Linked DNA regions of Homo sapiens. The protein of the gene in region 1 interacts with the protein of each later gene in a pairwise test. Each region holds a gene or a part of one and is shown in the gene's direction. Other genes may lie near its edges.

What was found. The genes of interacting proteins can lie anywhere in the genome.
Region 2: the proteins of FAM204A (region 1) and SMYD1 interact in binary tests that used the Homo sapiens proteins (3 or more experiments, as listed by UniProt).
Region 3: the proteins of FAM204A (region 1) and SPANXN2 interact in binary tests that used the Homo sapiens proteins (3 or more experiments, as listed by UniProt).

What each region holds. Positions count from the first base shown.
Region 1 is NC_000010.11:118,332,279-118,339,393, reverse strand, and holds part of FAM204A (protein FAM204A), read left to right. Parts: intron 1-1,985; exon of another isoform or gene 1,986-2,151; coding exon of another isoform or gene 2,152-2,164; exon of another isoform or gene 2,165-2,168; intron 2,169-2,970; coding exon of another isoform or gene 2,971-2,978; coding exon 2,979-3,212; intron 3,213-3,752; coding exon 3,753-3,840; intron 3,841-3,967; coding exon 3,968-3,998; intron 3,999-4,180; coding exon 4,181-4,280; intron 4,281-7,115.
Region 2 is NC_000002.12:88,070,825-88,077,824, forward strand, and holds part of SMYD1 (histone-lysine N-methyltransferase SMYD1), read left to right. Parts: intron 1-7,000. UniProt on the Homo sapiens protein: Methylates histone H3 at 'Lys-4' (H3K4me), seems able to perform both mono-, di-, and trimethylation. Acts as a transcriptional repressor. Essential for cardiomyocyte differentiation and cardiac morphogenesis.
Region 3 is NC_000023.11:143,711,455-143,717,752, reverse strand, and holds the end of SPANXN2 (sperm protein associated with the nucleus on the X chromosome N2), read left to right. Parts: intron 1-5,253; coding exon 5,254-5,718; 3' UTR 5,719-5,798; downstream 5,799-6,298.

The sequences.
Region 1 (7,115 bases):
GGAGGCCTAACATGGTGCCAGTTGGAAACTTTGTGAATGACAAGTATATGCTATGAATAGAAAGACTGTTTTGAAACATGAGTCCAAAGCAAAAGTCACTAAGCAGCCACTCCATATTGGCTGATCTGTAACTGGGCTGCTGCTTACACGGGCAACTCCATTTTGCAGGCTGCACAGTAAGTGGCAGCAGTTATCCGTGTTTATCAGTGACTGCTCAGTCTCCCTTGTATTTGTTTTTTTGAGAGTCACAGGAAAATGGCACATGACTAAAGGTTCTAAAGAGTGGAATTCAAAACCTACCTGATTTGAATTTTGCCTGGATTTAGAGGTGGATTCCACCTTTTTCAAACTATTTTAATTTTTTTTCCTTTGGGTACACTCAAGAAATTATCATACCAGGCAGATGCCACACTGAGGACAGTTTTTAATGCCACATGAGCAGGAGCTAAAAATATATAATTTTGAGAAAATTTAAAAAGCCATAAAAAATGCCTAACTACTTGAAGGCTGATTAGCAACAACAACAGCAAAAAGCATGCCTTCTTCGGGGCAACTGAGACTGCTTCCCAGAGGGAAGCATGTTTGGGTGCCCAGAGCATAGACTATCACCCTGCAGAGATGCTAAAACAGTGGTTTAGTAGGAGACCTGTGCCACTGCCCATTGGAGAGGCATACACGTTTCATGAGCAGTCACATCTAAAGTCCAGGTCAAGGAATACTTGGCTCAAAAACTGAGCAGAAACTTGCTATGTGTATAGCTGTCATTTCGTGAGGCTAGGGATTTTTGCCTGTTTTATATACTTCTGTCCCCAGGGTCTTGAAGAGTGTCTGGCACATAAGTGGGCATGTAAAATATTTTATGGACAGGAAGGGAAAGAGTTATTTCTAACATAGACTCCAGTGATGCTAAGAAATCCAAACCTGAAATTTGTTACTGTTTTAAGTCCTTAAATGATAATGAGCCTAAAGGTATATTATATGGCGGTGGCCAAGTCATACTGGAACTTATTACTGCTTCCTTCCCCTTGCTCTCAGAACAGGAGAAATCTTTTTTATTAATAGCATGACACCTGTTTTTCAATATTGGCATATTTTACATGATGTCTTTTGTGCTATTGGAGTATTTCAAGAGTACTGCTGTCCCAACTTTAAAAATCCACAGACAGGTTTAGGGATAGATCTGGGTTTTATGGGGCCTGGAGCTTATATAACTTCGGGTTTCTTCCTTTAAACAAAGAAATGTAAATTCTGAATAGAAAACTAGGTACAGTGCTTTGGAAGGACCTGTGCAGATGAGGAATCTTGGAGCTTAAGGTTACCATTATCTTCCTAGTAATTTGCCCTCATTTTATTCCTCCATTCAGAAAACCAAACACTAACATTTGTTATAGACACTTCACATCAGATTGTGACTATCAAGGAAGCAAATGATTGCATCAGTTGCTAAGTGAGTGCACCACAATTATTAGAAACTTCAAAACTATCTTATGAACCCTGTCACTCATAATAGAAATGATAAAAATGTAATACATGGCCACAGAAATAATAATAGCAAAGAGAACTTAACATTTATTGAGCCCCTAGGACCTCCTAAACACTGTGTTGAGGGGCTTATCTCATTTAATCCTCAGAATAGCCCTATAAGCAGTATAATTATCCCTGCATTACAGATAAAGAAATTGAGGGTCAGAGATGTCAAATGATTTCCTCATACTACTAGTAGTGTCAGAGTTAAGATTCTAGTTGGAGCAGTTAGATGCCAGAGTCCTTCCTCATAAAAAGCCAACAGAATATTTGGTGAGGATATTTCAGAGAGCCAGCAACTGATGAGGCTGGACCAAAGCCACAAAAAGTAAGATCTGATTCTTTGGACCTGGAAGGAGGTCTTTAAAAGATAAGAGAAATCTGTTATCACAAAATCCCTGATGTGTTTGTCTCAGAGAGAATGGTGGTTTCTTTTGTTTGTTTGTTTGTTTTTTAACTAGGTTAATCACAATATGGGACAGAAAACTGCAAAACAAATTTCCGTCCTTCCATTTTATTCCTTCATATTGATAGTAAATCATGAGCAGTACAACCGGCTTCTCTATTTTAAGCATCTTTTGAAGGAACTGGTTTTGGCTCAATATATGTGCTAAAATAGACTGTGCCATGAAGATCAATAGTGAGTATGTACTTGAGTATTATACTTTTAGCAAATGATAACAATTCTGCTATTTTAAGTCATTTTATTAAACTTAATGGTTCTCTCTACTAATGGACTGTATAGCTAATGCTAAATATTATCTTGAACTTGACCATTAGTTTCCCAAATATAGTATTGTTACTTTAAAAAGCTGTACATTTTTGTTAAATTGTTAGGATTATATTTCATTTAATATTATTTTAGCAAACAGTATTAAACTAAAAAGTAGGATATCCTTTTTACTACGATACCTTCCTCCAACTACTTATGTAGCTTAAAAATTTTCCTTTAGTTATTTTCCTGCTCCTTAGACAAGACGCCCTCTGAAAGCTTTGTCCATTAAATATAGGTGAAACATGCAGTTTTATTCTCTAATTGGTATAGCTTCAAATATGGTATTTTAATCCTAAATTGCTTGCAAAGTATGTTGTTAGGTTTTTAACATTCTTGAGCAATGCTTTACTGAATTTCATGTTTTTTTTAGACAAAACTACTCATATATTAGAGAATCAAGGCTCTATTTTCTTTACCTGTAGGTGTATGTTGTAACAAACTTGTTTAAACAGCTTTTAAACTTCTAAACTTTTTTTTTACTTACACAAGTGAAGATTTTAATTATTTTATAACAGGTTCATTCTATGCCATTTTAGATTAAAAAAAAAAAGTTTAGATGGACTGTTCCCAAACCATTGTTATAATTATTAGGCACCTGGAATGTCTTCTAATGGTCTTAAAATTATTTCTATGGTTATTCTACATGTGTAAATTAATCTTTTTCCTCATAGAAGAAAAGATGTGGAGTGGGCTGCTACCTCCTGGCCTAAATGAAAGTGACGCTGAGTCAAACTCGGAAGATGAAGCTACGTTGGAGAACTCTGGACTTAACTTACAGGAAGATAAAGAGGATGAGAGCATCAGAAAAACAGAAATCATAGATTTCTCAACAGATGAACCAAAAACTGAAACAGAGTCAAATGTAAATGCCTATGAAGAGTGTCCTTCTGGAATTCCCATAGATATGTGGAATGTAGGTTTTCTCTGAAATGCTCTTGCTACAGCCTGTGTGTGTGCACATGCCTCTGTGTGTCTCTGCCCTGGTCAGAATGTGCATGTATTCTTGGGACTTAACAGGGAGGGAGATGGACTCAGAATGCTTTTACTGTTCTCTGAGGCATCGGCCACTTAGATACTTGCGTTTATTTTGTTTTGTTTTTCATAGAAAGACGGAGGGGGAAAAAAAAAAAACCCAAACCACTATGTAGTATTAGCTGTTTGCCTAGCGTGGTACATGAGTAGTTTCTGTCTTTATTTAACCTTTTATTTATCTTTTTTGTTACCTACATGAGCTTCACTCTCAAATTATCAAATGACTTATTTCAAAACAAGTGAATATCAAAACTCAGGTTGTGAGTCTCAGAGAATAGAGCATCTCAAGAACTGACTACCATCATTAAATTGGTATCTTTATACACGCTGAAATATAATTGTTTTATTACTTCATTATTTTTTAAATGCATGTTTTTCTGGAAAGTATATTTGCTTCTCAATTTTTTTTTCTTTTACATAGAAATTTCAAGAATTGCATAAAAAACATTCTGAACAGAAAAGCACAACCTCAAGATTCAGAGGGAAAAGAAGAAAACGCTCCAGAAAAGGTGTTTTGTTTTAACTCAGGTTGTTCGTCGTGCTAATGCTAAGTTGTGACTGAGTTTAACCATTTTTTTAAAATATGGTTTTGAAATTACTGAAGTTAGGTATTGACACTTTGTGAATTCTTTTCAGATAAATTGAAGAATGAAAAAGAATTACATAGGTAGGTAGAATTTAAAATAGTTATCTATTTTAGGCCATTGTAGAAATTGTTGAACTAATTGTTTCTGATAGTAATCAAACATATGAACTAGTAATTGTAGTATAATTGTAGTAACCGATTAAAAACAGTAAAAGTAAAGACAGTATATATTGTATAAAACAAAACTTACTATCTTCTTTTAGTGAACCGTCCTCAAATGAAACCCAGTGGAAAGAGCTTACTCAGTATTTTGGAGTCAATGATAGATTTGACCCGCCTGTTAAAAGGAAAAAAGTTGAGAAGGTAATATCTTTGTTATTGCATCTTATACCAGCTAGTAGGATATGTTTGTGATTAGCCTCGCCTAAAGTACTTGTCCTCATTAATTCATTCAGTTAAAAAGATGCCTACTGCATACCAAAAAGGGTGCTAGATAAGTAAATATATAGTTACAAATTATTAAAAAACTGTTAAGAGAAAGAACAGGTTGTTGTGAAAATATTAAAATGGGGGCTTCACTTTAGCATGGATGGTCAGGGAAAGCCTTTCATAGAAGGTGCCACGTCACTGAGACCTGAAGGATGGAAAAAACTGTCTATATAAAGAATGCTAGCGCAGAGGCATGGATAAAGATCCTAGGGAAGAGTCGTCCTGGGACATTCCAGTAACTGTAGGAAGGCCAGCCTGGCTGGAATGGGGTCAGCGAGGAGGAGGGTAGCCCACTATATGATTACAGAGGCAGGCAGTCAGTGACCAAATTGTGTAGGACCTCAAAAGGCTTAGTAAAGAAATGGGTTTTATTCACAATGCAGTTGAGAGTCATAAAGGCTTTTAAGTCAAGGGAATGACATGACCTATGTTAAAAAGATTCGTATGACTGTTACCTGGTGAACTGATTGTGAGGCAGCAAAAATAGATGAGAACAGAACAGTTAAGAGACTTCTAGGCATAAGATGATGATGAATTGAACCAGAATGGTTCTGCTGAAGAAGGAAAAAAGTGGATGGATTTGAGGCGTATTGTAGAAGTAAAATTGATGATACTTGCCTCTGGATTGCTTGCGAGGTGATAGGGAGGGTTTGGGGCGTATGGAAGGGGAGAGAATCATTCAAAGCTTTGGCTTAAGCAGTGGTGTGGATAGTGATGTTACGAAGAGAAATTTGGGGAAGGGAAAGGATTGAGAGTGGGACCTAGCCAAAGTTCAGTTTGGGACTTGAGTGTTATTGGAAAGCAGGAGCAGAGTTGTTGGTTAGTATAATGACCTTGAGATGCACATTTGTAGTTGTCAGTCTCTAGACATACTAATACTTAGAAGACGCTTGTGTGAATTAGTAACTCACTTATTCATACAGGGAAATGTTGGAGCATGAAAATCAAGTGCCGAGTGGTAGAGCTGGAGGCTCAGGGGGCTAGTTGAAGCCCAAGTATATTGTATCCTGTGTGTAATAGACAGATGCCTCTTTCATGGATCATTGCTGTAGACTATGTGTGTACCTAGAGACCTTTGTCATTTTCTGATCCATCTGTATTTCTTCTAAAGTATCTCTGATTTTAAATCCATCATTGCATGGTACTGTGTTATTGAGGGTGCATACATTAAGGAACTGTCAAAACAGAATTTTGCATGTAATTTATATTCATCCATATAAATTACATCTGGCTAAGGAAGTTATGGCAGTTTTCTAAACAAGGAGCCTGAGCTGGCTAGGCTTCTATCTGTCTAGGATTTTTCCTGCATTTAATATTCTACAAATAAACACAAGCATAAGAGGAAAGGAAGGACTTAGTGAAGCCCGATTCTTGCATGTTTCCTGTTCTCTTGGTAGTTCAGTATAATTGCATGCCAGCAGGTTCCTACTCATTCTTTGGTTTGGGATCGTTGGTTTAAATGGTACTCCTTTGGCTGTCCTCCTAAAGTTTCTACTGCAAATCCAACAGAGTAAATAAACTTTAAAGAATGTCCACATTGGAGATGCTGAGATAAAAACTAAATAAATGTAAGTCCAGCACATAGTAGCGACTGCTCATGAAATCTAGAGATGATTTTGAAAATCTGTGATGCAGTTAGAACAAAACTAGCATGAATTTCCATCCACTATTTTGTTTCTCTGGAGCAGAGGCTAATCTGTTACCATATCTGAGAGAACCTTTTTATTTTGTATTCACTCAACCCTCTAGGATGGTAAAACAAAACAAACTTCTTAATATGTGTCTATCGTGCAGTCTTTTTTTTCCTCCCCTTTTTCTTTTTTGGAACACTGCCAAGCTGAAACTTGCTCAACCAAGAATGTCTGTTTACAGCACTGCTGTCACCTGCCTCTCAGACAATGCAGAGGCTTGTATTTTTTAAACATAATCTTCCTAATATCCAAAGCTGTTTTAAAGTGTTCTTTGTATTAAATACAGCTATAATTGTGTTTCTGGCAGCAGTTCTGGGACTTACTAGTAATTCTGTAATCATAACATAATTATTTTGAATCTGTGGGAATTTCTTTAGAATAAATTTCACTCATTAATTTCACTATAAATGTCTCAAGTATTCTTTAGTTGAATCAGTTTGATTAGTCAGCAGTCATTATTGAAGTAGTTTTATGTATACCTAATGGATACTTTTTGGCATGAAAAACCAGAGGTACTTTATTAAATGTTAGAGTAATTGTACAATGTCTTTGATGAATTTTTCAAGTTTTTTATGAGAGGAAACTGCTATTGTATAGTGTAGCTTTTTCGAACTTGGTTTTTTTTGTTTGTTTGTTTGTTTGTTTTTAGCAGAGTGCTTTTTCCAAACAGACTCTTACATGGTTCTCCAATACATAGATCAGTTAAAAGGCTGGCTTCCTTGAGTGGGTGGAGGGAGGGGCATAGGGATGTGGAGGGAGGGGCATTAGGATGTGGAGGGAGGGGCATAGGGATGTGGAGGGAGGAGGTATAGGAGAGGGAGGTTTAGGGGTGTGGTGAGAGAGGTATGGGGAGTGTTGTAGTGGTACCATGAAGATCCCCTGGTATCAGTTGTAAACCATTGCCTCTTGGTTCCTGTGTGATTTCCGTGGGGTAGGTTGATAGGTCCAGTGTTATTCTCAGAATACAGATAAAGAAACTGAAGCTCAGCATAATTTGCCTAAGAAAACAAACCAGGTG
Region 2 (7,000 bases), on another chromosome or scaffold:
CCCAGCTACTCAGAAGGCTGAGGTGAGAGAATCGCTTAAACCCGGGAGGCAGAGGTTGCAATGAGCCAAGATCATGCCACTGCACTCTAGCCTGGGTGACAGAGCAAGACTATTTCTCAAAAAAAAAAAAAAAAAAAAAAAAACAGTAATAGTTTTATCACAGTCACATATTTCTAAACAATGTATAATTTAGTTATGTTTTGTTTTTGATCTTTTAAACAAAGGTACAATATTATATGTGGTTTTATGCCACTTGTTTCTTTCAATGAAATGTTTATTATTCATCTGTATGGTTTTGTGAAACTAATAAAATGAATAAACTTTGTGTGTGTCTGTGTACCAAATTTATTTTTCCATTCTCCTGTGAATGGTTGCTATGAACATTTTTGCTCCTATCTCTTGGAAAGCAGATACATGAGGTGTGTATCACAGAAGTGTAATTACTAGGCCAGTAATATATGTGTTATTTGGCTTTAAAATATAATGCCATACTGTGAAATGCTGGTTTGTAAACCTGAATTGTGTCTTTGTTAGAATGGGCTTTGTTTAGCATTAACAGTAACAATCCAGGCCCTTAAATTATGGTCCTTAGTCTGGTTAGGATCTCTTCACCTTTGATGGTCGGAAAAGCAGGTACTCTTCTTGAAGGTAAGAGAGCAAGAATAAAGCTGGGAAAATTCTTTCAGGCCTAGCTATTATGTAGCACTTGGATTAAGTGCTAGGCATGACTAATCAATCAGGCACACCTTCCTCCTGAACTCCAACTTGGCCTCAGAATCCCTTCCAGCAGGTCCTCCAGGGGGCTACTACCAATCAATGAGAACTAGCATTTAAAAATGAAGTCTATTTGCCATCCTCTTAGGTGTTGTGGTTGGGGGCTGGAAGGGAGTGAAGTACCGTTACCAAGGGGTTGCCTTTTTTGGACACAGTATTTTATGGTAGTTGAGATACCGGGGGTGATGCACGAGTGGGTAAAAGTTGCTCTCTGCCCCTTTAACTCTCCACTCTGAGAGTTTCCAGTTCTCAGGGGGAAAGTGAGTGGGAGCTCTGTGGTACCTTAGCCCAAGTGATCCTCCTAGCTTCTACATAGCATGGGGTCAAACTGGGAATTCGCAATGCTGGGTTTTGTTGTTGTTGTTAAGGAAGAAAATAATAATTCTCTGCAATCTTAACATTTGGAAAAAAAAAAAAAACCCCAGCTATTAACATTCTGGTGTATATCCTCCTTGTTTTCTGATGCAAATACAATGCATATAAAATGTTTTCTTGATTCTGATGAGTTATAGGTGGGGTGGGGGTCCTGGAAGAAATACTACATTATTATTGTTATTATTTTTATTTTTTGAGATGAAATCTTGCTCTGTCAGCCAGGCTGGAGTGTAGTGGTGAGATCTCGGCTCACTGCAACCTCTGCCACCTGGGCTCAAGTGATTCTCCTGCCTCAGCCTCCCGAGTAGCTGGGACTACAGGTGCATGCCACCACACCCAGCTAATTTTTGTATTTTTAGTAGAGACAGGGTTTCACCCTGTTGCCCAGGCTGGTCTCGAACTCCCGGCCTCAAGTGATCTGCCGGCCTTGGCCTCCCAAAGTGCTAGGATTACAGGCGTGAGCCACTGCGCCTGGCAGAAACACTACATTAAATATATGCTTTGATTGTAAGACACAAAATGTCCCTAAATTCTGGATATTAAAATATGGGAAAAGAAGTTTATTTCAGAATGGAGGGAAAATGGGACATACATAATATGCTATATTTATCAATTCCAGAATACATATTTTAACTTCTCTGAAATCATAATGTATCCTAAAATCTATGGCTGATTATGGTTTAATTGGCAGATTTTTTTTGATTTCTTAGTAGTGAATAAAAATGGTGCATTTAATAATTTCAGGTTCAATGTAATTAAGTTGTATACACTTTTTCTCTCAAAAAAGTTGGATTATTTTGTAACCTGTTTTATTTACTTCATAATATGTTGTGAACAACTTTCAAACCATTAATATCCTTCTACACCATTTTAATGGCTGCATAGTATTCTTTTTGTTGACTTGTATATTAATTTAATTAGATGCCATATATTAGTTTTTATTTTCATTTTAGATTTTGGGGGTACATGTGCAGGTTTGCTACATGGGCATATTGTGTGATGCTGAGGTTTGGGCTTCTAATAATCTGCTTGCCCAGGTAGTGAACATGGTACCCTATAGGTAGCTTTTCAATTCTTCACCCTCTCCCTCCCTCTCCCCTTTTGGAATCTCCAGTGTTTATTGTTCACATTTTTGTGTCTATACATACCCAATGTTTATCTCCCACTTCAAAATGAAAACATGTTATTTGGTTTTCTGTTTCTGCATTAATTTGCTTAGGAGAATGGCCTCCAGTTGCACCCATATTGCTGCAAAGGACGTGATTTTGTTCTTTTTTAACAGCTGTGTAGTATTACAGGGTATATATGCACCAGGTTTTCTTTATACAATCCACCATTGATGGGCACCTGGGTTGTTTCCATGTCCTTGCTACTGTGGATAGTGCTGTGATAAACATATGAGTGCAGGTGTGTTTTTGGTAGAATAATTTATTTTCCTTCAGGTAGATATTCAGTAATGGGATTTCTGGGTCGAATGGTAATTCTAGTTTTAGTTTTTTGAGAACTCTCCAGGCTGCTTTCTACAAGGGCTGAACTAATTTGTAGATGCTATGTTTTGGAGATCAAGGGTGTGCTCTTCTTTTTCCTAGTAGATCTTCCCATATATCTCTGATTATGTATTAAAGACAAATTCCTACAAGTATAAATTTTGAATTCAAAATACGTTTTTAAGGCTTTTGATATAGATTTCCAAATTACCTCATCAAAGGAGATCATACATTTTTCTACTAGCAGCACAGGGGTTGTCTCCTCATCCCAATACTGGCCAACACAGAAAACTATTTCACTTTTTCATGTTTGTCAACTTAATCTGTTAAAACTTTTTTTAGTATTGTTTTAACTTGAATTTTTTATTATTAGAGAAGTGAAAGTTTTTTAACATTTGTTCTTTTATGAATTGTTGTTTTCTTTTGATGCCCTCAATTTTTAAGTATATGCATAACTCATTTGTTTATTACTCCTTTATGTCTAGTTCTCCCCTCTATTACCTAGCTCGATGCACATAACAGATGCTCAATAAATACTTGTGGAAAGAATCAGGGAGGGAAGGAAAGAGAGAGAAAGAGAGAGGGAAAGAAGATGGGGTTTCACTATGTTGCCAAGGCTGGTCTCAAACTACTGACCTCAAGAGATTTGCCTGCCTCAGCCTCCAAAAGTGCTGGGATTACAGGCGTGAGCCCCTAGGCACCTGGCCTTTAGTTCCCTTTGCTGCTGTCACAAACTACTGTAACTTCAATGGCTGAAAACAACACAAGTTTATTATCTTATAGTTCTGGAGGTTAGAAGTCTAAAACAGGCTGACACTTCTGTTTCTTTGCTATCTCCATCTACTTGAGGCTGCCCACATTCCTTGGCTCATGGCCCCCTTCCTGAATCTTTAAAGCCAGCAGTGTAACATCTTGTTCCCTGCTGACCTCCTGCCTCCTCTTATAAGGACTTGCAATTACATTAGGCCCACCTAGGAAATTTGGGATACTGTCCTTGTCTCAAGGTCTTTAACTTAATCACTCATGCAAAGTTCCTCTGCCATGTAATGTAATCTATTTATAAGTTCTGGGGATTAAGACATTGACAATTTTTGGGGGGCTATTATTCAGTCTACCCCAACGAAAAAGAATTTTCTAGATTGATCCAATTCATCACAAAATATGTTAAGAAGGAGCAAGGACAGTTAGTGGATTTTTTTTTAAAAGTTCTTTAAATAAAAACTTGAGCAGTCTCTAAATTATTCTGGTTACAAAGTTGAAAGTGACCCGGAGATTATGTATATATAGTGTGTATATAGGGAAAAAGATAGTGGGGAACATGAGAAAAAGTTGAGTATTTGTAAATAAATTACTGTCAACCAGGCTTTTTTTGAAAATGGAACCAGTTATGAGCTTTCTTAGGTGCGGCAGAGCAGGTGGGGTTAGTCAGTGTAATTCTGTGTGAGCATGTGGGAATGGCAGGATCAGCCCTGGCAGACACACAAACACACATGTGGCCTTTAATCTGATAACAGCTGGTGGTTGGTTATTGGGGGATAAATGATGCTATAAATGGAAATAATTTAATAAAAGGATTAGAGAAATTCCGGAACAATTAGTTCAGAAAATGAGTAAGTGCTAAACTATTCAAGTGACAGCCTTAAATGTTTGCATTGGATGTTGAGAATAACCACAGTCGACTTAGAATTCTGCTTTTCATTTGGCACTTTTAGCTGCAGAGGCAAGACATGTCGACATGTTACACAACCTGTTGTGAGCTGTATTGCTAAATATTGCTCAATAATTCTTAAATCCAGAAGTCTGAGAATGATTGCCTTTTAAAGATGGATTAGATCAAATGGCAGGTTGTCCCCATAATGATGCTATCTTTACCCACTCGCATCCCAGGATGTGTTCTGAACATGAATTGAGGGGGGTGCTTCAGCTAGGCCATGGAAATGTATACAGGTCTTAGTAGGGTGTGTGAGCTGTGGCAGAGAAAATCTTGAGAATTGATGTTTTAATAAAAAAAGGGATGTTAAAAATAAATTGACAATCTCCAGGCTTGATCCAAGGAAACAGTACCTTTTAATTCTTTTTTTTTTTTTTTTTTTTTGAGATAGGGTCTCACTCTGTTGGTCAAGCTGGAGTGTCATGGCACAATCATGGCTCATTGCAGCCTCTACCTGCTGGGCCCAAGCCATCCTCCCACCTCAGTCTCTGGAGTAGCTGGGACTACAGGTGCCTGCCACCATGGCTGGCTACTTTTTATTTTTGTTTTTTGTAGAGGCAGTGGTCTCACTATTTTGCCCAAGCTGGTCTCAAACTCCTGGGCTCAAGTGATCCTCCTGCCTCAGCCTCCCAAAGTTCTGGGATTACAGGTGTAAGCCACTACCCCAGCCCCCACTGACTTCTTATGTCAAGGTATTTAATAGTCAGTGCAAACATGAATCTCATGATCTCATCCAACGGCTAACTCTGTCTCCTATATGTACACCCCCACACCGACACATTTGCCTATCAGTGCCTCTTTCTGGAAGACCTCAACCTTCTCTGAGTACAAACTCAGCCTATCTCTCGAGGTCAGAACAATGCCTCCTCATCTCGTAGGTGATGCCTTTCTAGATTGCCTCTCCTACCTCAGTTGAAGTAGTCTCTCTTCCTCGAAACTTACAGCAAGTTACCATGCTTGTGGAATGTGGGTCCTGCCTTGTTTATATGTGTTTATGTCCCATCCCAGCCTGGGGACTGCTTGAAGGCAAAGTCGGTATTTCCTTTATCTTTTTTGTTTTTGAGACAGAGTCTCGCTCTGTCGCCCAGGCTGGAGTGCAGTGGCGTGATTTCGGCTCACCGCAAGCTCCGCCTCCTGGGTTCACGCGATTCTCCTGCCTCAGCTTCCCGAGTAGCTGGGACTACAGGCGCCCGCCACCACGCCCAGCTAATTGTTTTTTGTTTGTTTGTTTTTAGTAGAGACGGGGTTTCGCCGTGTTGGCCAGGATGTTCTCGATCTTCTGACTTTGTGATCCGCCTGCCTCGGCCTCCCAAAGTGCTGGGATTACAGACGTGAGCCACCGCGCCCCGCCTTCCTTTATCTTTTAAGGCCCTCTATTACCTAGCTCAATGCACATAACAGATTCTCAATAAATACTTGCAGAATGAAGCAGGGAGGGAAGGAAAGACAGAGGGAAAGAAGAAAAGAAGAAGGAATGAGAAAAAGAATTTAAAATATTGTGAAGTTATCTGGGTACTTGAGGGATGGGATGTTCTTTAAGACACCTACCCCAGGCTGGGCACAGCAGGCTTACGCCTGTAATCCCAGCATTTTGGGAAGCTGAGGCAGGCGGATCGCTTGAGCTCAAGAGTTTGAGACCAGCCTGGGCAACATAATGAAATTCCATCTCTACAAAAAAATAAAAATAAAAACAAGCCAAGCGTGGTGGCATGTGCCTGTAGTCCCAGCTACTTGGGAGGCTAAGGTGGGAGGGTCGCTTAGGCCCAGGAGTTTGAGGCTGCAATAAGCAGTGATTATGCCATTGCATTCCAGCCTGGAGGACAGAGAAAGACCCTGTCTCAAAAAAAAAAAAAAAAAGACACTTCCCTCTAATTTTTGAGGAGAGACCTTCTGGCAGGCTGGGAGTTTGTAAGCATCCCTGAAAGACAGAACGGTTGAACTGTTGGTCCTGTCCTCTCTGGCTGAGTTTTTGGAGGGCTTGCCCACCATGCAGGCACCTTGTCTTTGCATTTATCTGTCCGTGAGCAACTATTTCCATACAAGGAGCTGAGCAGCAGCTGCCCTTCCAGCCCTCTTCACTCTGACAGATCACAGAGTCCAGCAGGGCTGCAGAGCAGAGTGAGAGGGGACCAGCTGCTGGAGCAGGGCACATTCAAGGCTGCAGGCCAAGCAGGTGGGCCTTGTAGCTGCATCCGCCCGCCTTCTGTGCTGGGAGCAGCGTCCGGCGTCAGGGACCCTTAAGAGAATAATATCCCTGTGAGGATAATGATCTCGGCCAGTCTAAAGGGTTGCTGTGAAGATTTTTAAAAAAACGAATCACTAAAAACATCTCTTTGAAATGGCAAAGTGCTGTGTAAGTGGGAGTTGATACCTTCTTGTGTGAATAGGAATGTAAGACTCGGGAGAAACGAGACTTGCTGAAGGTCACCCAGCTAAGACTGCCTGGGACAAATGCTCTTTCTCGGAATCCAAAAAGTGGCTTTAGGACTTCATGTTATTTGGACACTCTCCTGCACTAGGGGCAGTAAGGCAGGGGAGGGGTGGGCATTTCTTTTTTTTTTTTTTTTTTTGAGACGGAGTCTCACATTGTCACCCAGGCTAGAGTGCCGTGGCGTGATCTCGGCTCACTGCAAGCTCCGCCTCCCAGGTTCAA
Region 3 (6,298 bases), on another chromosome or scaffold:
GAGGGGAAGTTTGAGTGCAAAGGGAACATGCCTTAGTAATATCTCTGAGATGGGCAACCATGGTGGAAGAATGTCTAGAAGTTTTTAAAAGCTGGAGTAGGGGCAGTAACCGGCATGGAAATGGTTGTGCACATATGAAAGTACAGAAGGTTTTTTAAACTTGGGCAAGACACTTTATCAGTGAGATCGAACTATTTTTTCCTGAATGGCACCAGCCTGGGCAAGTGGGTTTTTTTCCTGCTGGGTATATACAGGGTGTATGCTGGGAAAAAAAATGAGCAATAACGATGGGGTTTTAAGGGCTGCCTGCCAGGCTGCCGAATTTGTTGAAAGGTTTTTCTCGGTTTTGGCATCTGTAGCCTTTCGGTGTCCCTTGCAATGGATAATGGTGGCCTTTGGTGGTGGTTTATCCACCCCCAACAGCTTATGTGTAAGTTTGCCATTTCTTATGGGGGTTCCTTTTGTAGTTAGGAAACCCTGTTCCTGCCAGATGAAGGCATGAGACTGTAGGACATGGTATGCATATTTGGAATGGGTGTAAATGTTGACCCTCTTTCCCTTTGCTAGGGTGAGGGCCCTGGTTAGGGCAACTAGCTTTGCCTGTTGAGAGGTAGCATGGGGTGTGAGAGCATTCGATTCTAGGAGTTTATCTTCAGCACTGATGGAATAGCCAGCTGCTGGACATGGCTGCCTAAAAGAGGTTCCATTAACTAACCGTGTATGTGTTCCCTGCAAAGGGGCATCTGAAATGTGTTGGAAGGGGGAGGAGAGGGAGTCTAAGAGGTCCAGACAGGAGTGAGAGAGCTTAGAGTCGGAAGTGTTTACAGGGAGAAGGGTGGCTGGGTAGAGAATTTTATGTCTCTGGAAGGTGATTAGAGGGTTACCTATGAATAAGGCATGCACCTGCTGTAAGCAGGATGGTGGGAGGGATAGAAGGGATTGGTGGTTTATGAGGTCCTGTAGATAATGGGAAGATGCAATAGTAATGTGTTGGTAGAGAGGGAGTTTCCGTGCATCTAAGGCCAGCAATGTGGCCATACCCAAGATTTTTAGTCAGAGTGACCAGCCTCGGATGACAGAGTCCAGTTGTTTTGAGAGGCGTGCAATGGCTTCTGGGGCGTTGCCATATGTTTGGCAGAGTAGTCCAAGGGCAAGGCGCTGGTCAGAATGTACATAGAAAGTAACAGGCTTGGTGAGGTTTGGCAGTCCCAGTGCCAGGGCCATTAAAAGGGCATTTTTAAGTTTTTAAGTTGGAGTTGATGGGGCAAGCTGGGTTCAGGGGTTTTAGGATGGGCCCATGTGAGGCTACGTATAGTGGCTTGGCCAGCAAGTCAAAGTTAGGAATTCACAGCCAGAAGTATCCCACAAGGCCCAAGAAGGAGGGGAGGTCCTTTTTTTTTATGTGGGGAAGGGGCATGTCCCAAATTGGCTCCTTTCATTGGGTTGGGATGGCTCGAGAATTAGGGGTTAGAACAAACCCAAGGTAAGTAACTTTGATTTGGGTACCTGAGATTTTGTGGGTTAGGCCCAATATACTTGATTATGAAGGAAGTTTAAAACCTGAGTGGTGTGTTGAATGGACAGGTTAAGAAAGGGGCTACAGAGAAGGAGGTCATTGACATACTGGAGGAGGGTACTAGGAGCAAGGGGAAGTTCAGCTAGGTCCTTGATGAGGGCCTGTCTGAACAGGTGGGGCCTATCCCGGAACCCCTCTAAGAGTACAGTCTAGGTGTAAGTCCATGTGTAAGTCCTGTAAGAGTACAGGACATGTGAGTATTAGGATTTGACCAAGTCAAAGCAAAAAGACTTTGGTAAGCCAGATTTAAGGGAATAGTGAAATAGTTGTCTTTTAGTTCAATACAAAGGAGTGTGTGGTAGATGGGGCAATACGGTAGAGTAGAGTATATTGGTTGAGGACCACTAGATGGATTGGTACCACGGCCTGGTTAACGACTTGGAGATCCTAGACAAAGGGGTAAGTCCCGTCTGTCTTTTGGAAAGCCAGAATAGGGGTGTTGTGGGGAGAGTTAACAGGCTTGAGAATATGAGCTTGTAAAAGTTTACAGATAATAGGTTTGAGACCCCCTAAGCAAGGCTGGATTAAGGGGATATTGAGACTGATGAAGGAAAATGGAGGGGTTTTGAAGGGTTATTTTAACTGGGATGTGATGTGTGGCTATTGTGGGTTTAGAAACATTCCAAGCTTTAGAATTAACAGAAGGTAACAGGGTGGATAATGAGGATGAGTGGGGGGAGAGGGAAGCGTTTGGGTGTCAGAGTAAAATAAAAGGGGTAGAATTGTAGGAGCCACATTGCATGGAGTTCTGGAATTTACTTAATATGTCCCATCCCAAGATAGGGGTAGGGGACTGAGGGATAACCAGGAAAGAGTGGGTGAAGGGGGCTGCTGAATAGGTTGTATAATAAAGGACCAGTCTGTGCCTAGAGGGGATTTTATTGATTCTCACAATAGAGATCGAAGAACAGAAAAAGGGTCTAGAATATTCTGGTCAAACTGAGTAACTAGTTGTCCTATTGAGTATCCAATAGGAAAGACATGGGCTTACTAGAGACTGACAGAATTACCCTGGGTTCCGAGGTGGTGATGGCAGTAGGGGCGGTGGACTCCAGGCCCCACCTGTCTTCAGGTACAGGTGGTGAAGCAGGATGAAGAGTTTCAGTGAGCACAGTCTGACTTCCAGTGTTGCTTGATACCACAGATGGGGCAAGATTTCCAGAGTGTCCTGGGATTAGGCTAGGCTTTTGCCCAGTGTCCCTGTTAGACGAACTTGTAACAGGCTCCTGGAGTTGACTGTTGCCAAGTTGAGGAATTCTGTAGGCCTTGGGAACCCTGTTGAGTGGCAGCTACCAGCATTTGGTATTTAGCCTGGTCCTTCTTTAGGTTTGGATTTTTTAGTTCTTCCTCTCTAATCTTATAGATCTTGAAGGCCACTTTGATTAAGTCTCTTTGGAAGGTTTGAGGGCCACCCTCCAGTTTTTTAAGTTTTTTTCAAATGTCTGGGTCTGACTGGGAGATAAAGTATAAATGGAGGTAGTTTTTGCCCTTATTGGTATTAGGGCTTAAGGTGGCATATTTAGTTGTGACTTTTGAAAGGCAGGAGAGGAAACGAGCAGGGACAGCTTTATTTATGCCAGCTAGAAGGCATGATATCATATGGCCTGATTTCTGTCTGTCTACTGAAGTTGCCTGATAATTCCAACTGGGGCCAGTTCTGGGGACAGCTAGGGTCCCTATTGGATTATGAGCAGCATCTTGTTGGTGGAGGGTGTTCTCATGGACCTGGGCACCCATAAAGATGTGTTCCCTGTCCTCCAGGGTGAGGGTAGAGGAGAGGATGACATATATGTCATGCCAGGTAAGGTCATAAGATTTAGGGAAGTACAAGAATTCCTTGTGGAAGGAGGTTGGATCCATTGAAAAGGAGTCAAGTCTCCTTTCAATATGGGAAAACTCAGCTAGAGAGAAGGGAACTTGAATTCAGATTATGCCTTTAGCCCTCGCAACCTCCTGCAAGGGAAGGACTTTGGAAGGCCTTTGGGCATGTGCCTGGTTCCTAGCGAAAGGGGGTTGGGTGTGAGACCTGGTTTGAGGTGGAGAAGGAAGGGGGATGGAGGGCGACAGTAAGGGGGTGGAGGAGCCGGATCCGAAGGAGAAGGTGGAGGGAATGGGAGAGGGCAGGAGGCTGAAGAACGGGTGTGTTGGCCAGGTTGAAATTCAGAGGAAGAAGACTTGTCCGGAGGAAGAGGCATTTTGGGGGGTTTCTCCTTGAGGAGGAAGATTTGAAAAGGTGAACAAGATTGGCAGAGAGAGAGAGAGAGAGAGAGAGAGAGAGAGAGAGTGAGGCATGAAAGGAGATAAGCAAAGCACTTCAGATTATTTACCATTGCATTGAAGAAAGTTTTTTAGATTATGTTGAATTTGGAAGTTGAATGTTTTGTTTTTTGGAAGAGGGGAGTGAATACTCTGGATGGGAGTGACTACCCCTGAGGAAAGTGAGTACCCTGGAAGGGAGTGAGTACCCCAGGGGTGAGCGAGTACTCCAGAGAGAAGTGAATACCCCATAGGGAAGTGAGTACTTGATTCCTCCTGGGAGAAGGGACCTGGAGAGTTGGGGCAGCCCCGTACTATTCATGCTCCCCAGAGGCCAGAGCAGCCAGAGTGGCAAACGTTTTGAAGGTGTACCCTAAGAAGGGAGGCTGCAGTCACCTGGTGACTGGGGAGACCTCTCACCCAGCACTGGAATTTTTTGGAGAACGGGCAGAAATAGAGAGGAATCTGGAAAGGAGGAAGAGGGAGACTCACCCACTAATTGAAGCCCAGTGTTGGATGTGATGTCCAGAAATGGGGGTGATCCTTGTTGCAGCTGCCCGGAAACAGGAAGGAACAAAAAATAAGGTGGCTTGTTTGATCACTATCTGGAGGTTAGCCCAGGTCTGGAGAAGACTAGAGAATAAGGAGAATGGGACTGGGAACAGGGAGTACACTCAGGATCTGGAAGCAGGCCCTGGTCTAGTTTGTGCTGCTTGCTGCTTTCCAGGTTGCAAGAGAAAACTTACCCATTAGAACCCAATCACCACTCCAGGTTTTGGCACCAAAATGTTAGGTTTTGAAGGGAAGGCAAGGATGAAAGAAAGACACACAGGGGGCAGCTCAAACAGCAACACAGGAATATGGCAGACACCTATGGAAGTGGAGGACAAGCTTAATGCCAGAGCCCACCGCCGCTTACAGGCTGGGGTACTTACAGGGATGGGCAGGAGGGATCTGGGCAATGTGGGATGCTATCCGGCAGGATATTGATAAGATGTTCTTATGATCAGGTGGTTTGGCCCTTTTTCCAGTGGAATATCATTGTGGCGTTCCTTAGAACTTTGCCAAGCAAGATATGATAGGAATGTTTCTTTAGTTGGGCCTTTGTCCGCCCTGTGGTCAGGTGGTTAGGCAGGATGTTTCTCACGGCCTGAGCCCCCATGGAGTGTCTCACTTTGACCAAGGTCTGCAAAATAGCAAAGAACTTGCGAAATCGTGCAGTTTGGACTAACAGATGACCCTACCCATGCTCCTCTTCTTCTTCCCCATAGATCACTACCCTATGATTCCACCTTGTTCTTCTCTGGCACAAACCCCTTCCTCAACCTGCATTCCTTCTCATAAAGCCCCCCTTGCTATCCAGTCTCTACCCTATTCACCCAAAATAATGACTTTCTGGCCTCTCCCTGTTTTCTTATCAGATGCAGGAGGCACCGAACAGGGTCTTAGCCCCCAAACAGAGCTTGCAAAAGACAAAAACAATAGAATATCTAACAATAATAGTGTATTACTACAGGAAGCATACGAAAATAAATTCAAATCAACTGGAGAAGGACCAGTCCCGAGAGAACTCCATCAATCCAGTCCAAGAGGAGGAGGACGAAGGCCTAGACTCAGCTGAAGGATCTTCACAGGAGGACGAAGACCTGGACTCATCTGAAGGATCTTCACAGGAGGACGAAGACCTGGACTCATCTGAAGGATCTTCACAGGAGGACGAAGACCTGGACTCATCTGAAGGATCTTCACAGGAGGACGAAGACCTGGACTCATCTGAAGGATCTTCACAGGAGGACGAAGACCTGGACCCACCTGAAGGATCTTCACAGGAGGACGAAGACCTAGACTCATCTGAAGGATCTTCACAGGAGGGTGGGGAGGACTAGTCAAACATGGAGAAACCAAATTGGACAAATCCTCACTACCAATGGCGATGATTACAATAAAATCAAGTTTGAGGAGCTGATGACCGTGTATATCTCTGCCTGTTGTCTGATGGTGGGAAGGAAGGGAAGGGAAGAGGTAGGCATTTGAGAAGGGAAGGATATGAGATCCTGTAGGGTTGGCGGACAGACCCACAGGTTGACAGTTTCCCAGACATTGTAAATAAGGCCTGGGGGAGGACTTATTCCTAGAGACAAATTTTCTTCTTAAAATTTTATCTAACAGGAGAGGAAGAAAAGGACTTGGTGTTTGGAGCATGTGAATATGTAGAAGGGCATTTAAAAAGATCTGTATTGGCCGGGCACGGTGGCTCATGCCTATAATCCCAGCACTTTGGGAGGCCGAAGCAGACGATCTCCTGAGGTCAGGAGTTCGAGACCAGCCTGTCCAACATGGCAAACCCCAGTCTCTACTAAAAAAAAAAAATACAAAAATTAGCTGGGAGTGGTGGCAGGTGCCTGTAATCCCAGCTACATGCGAGGCTGAGGCAGGAGAATCACTTGAACACAGGAGGCGGAAGTT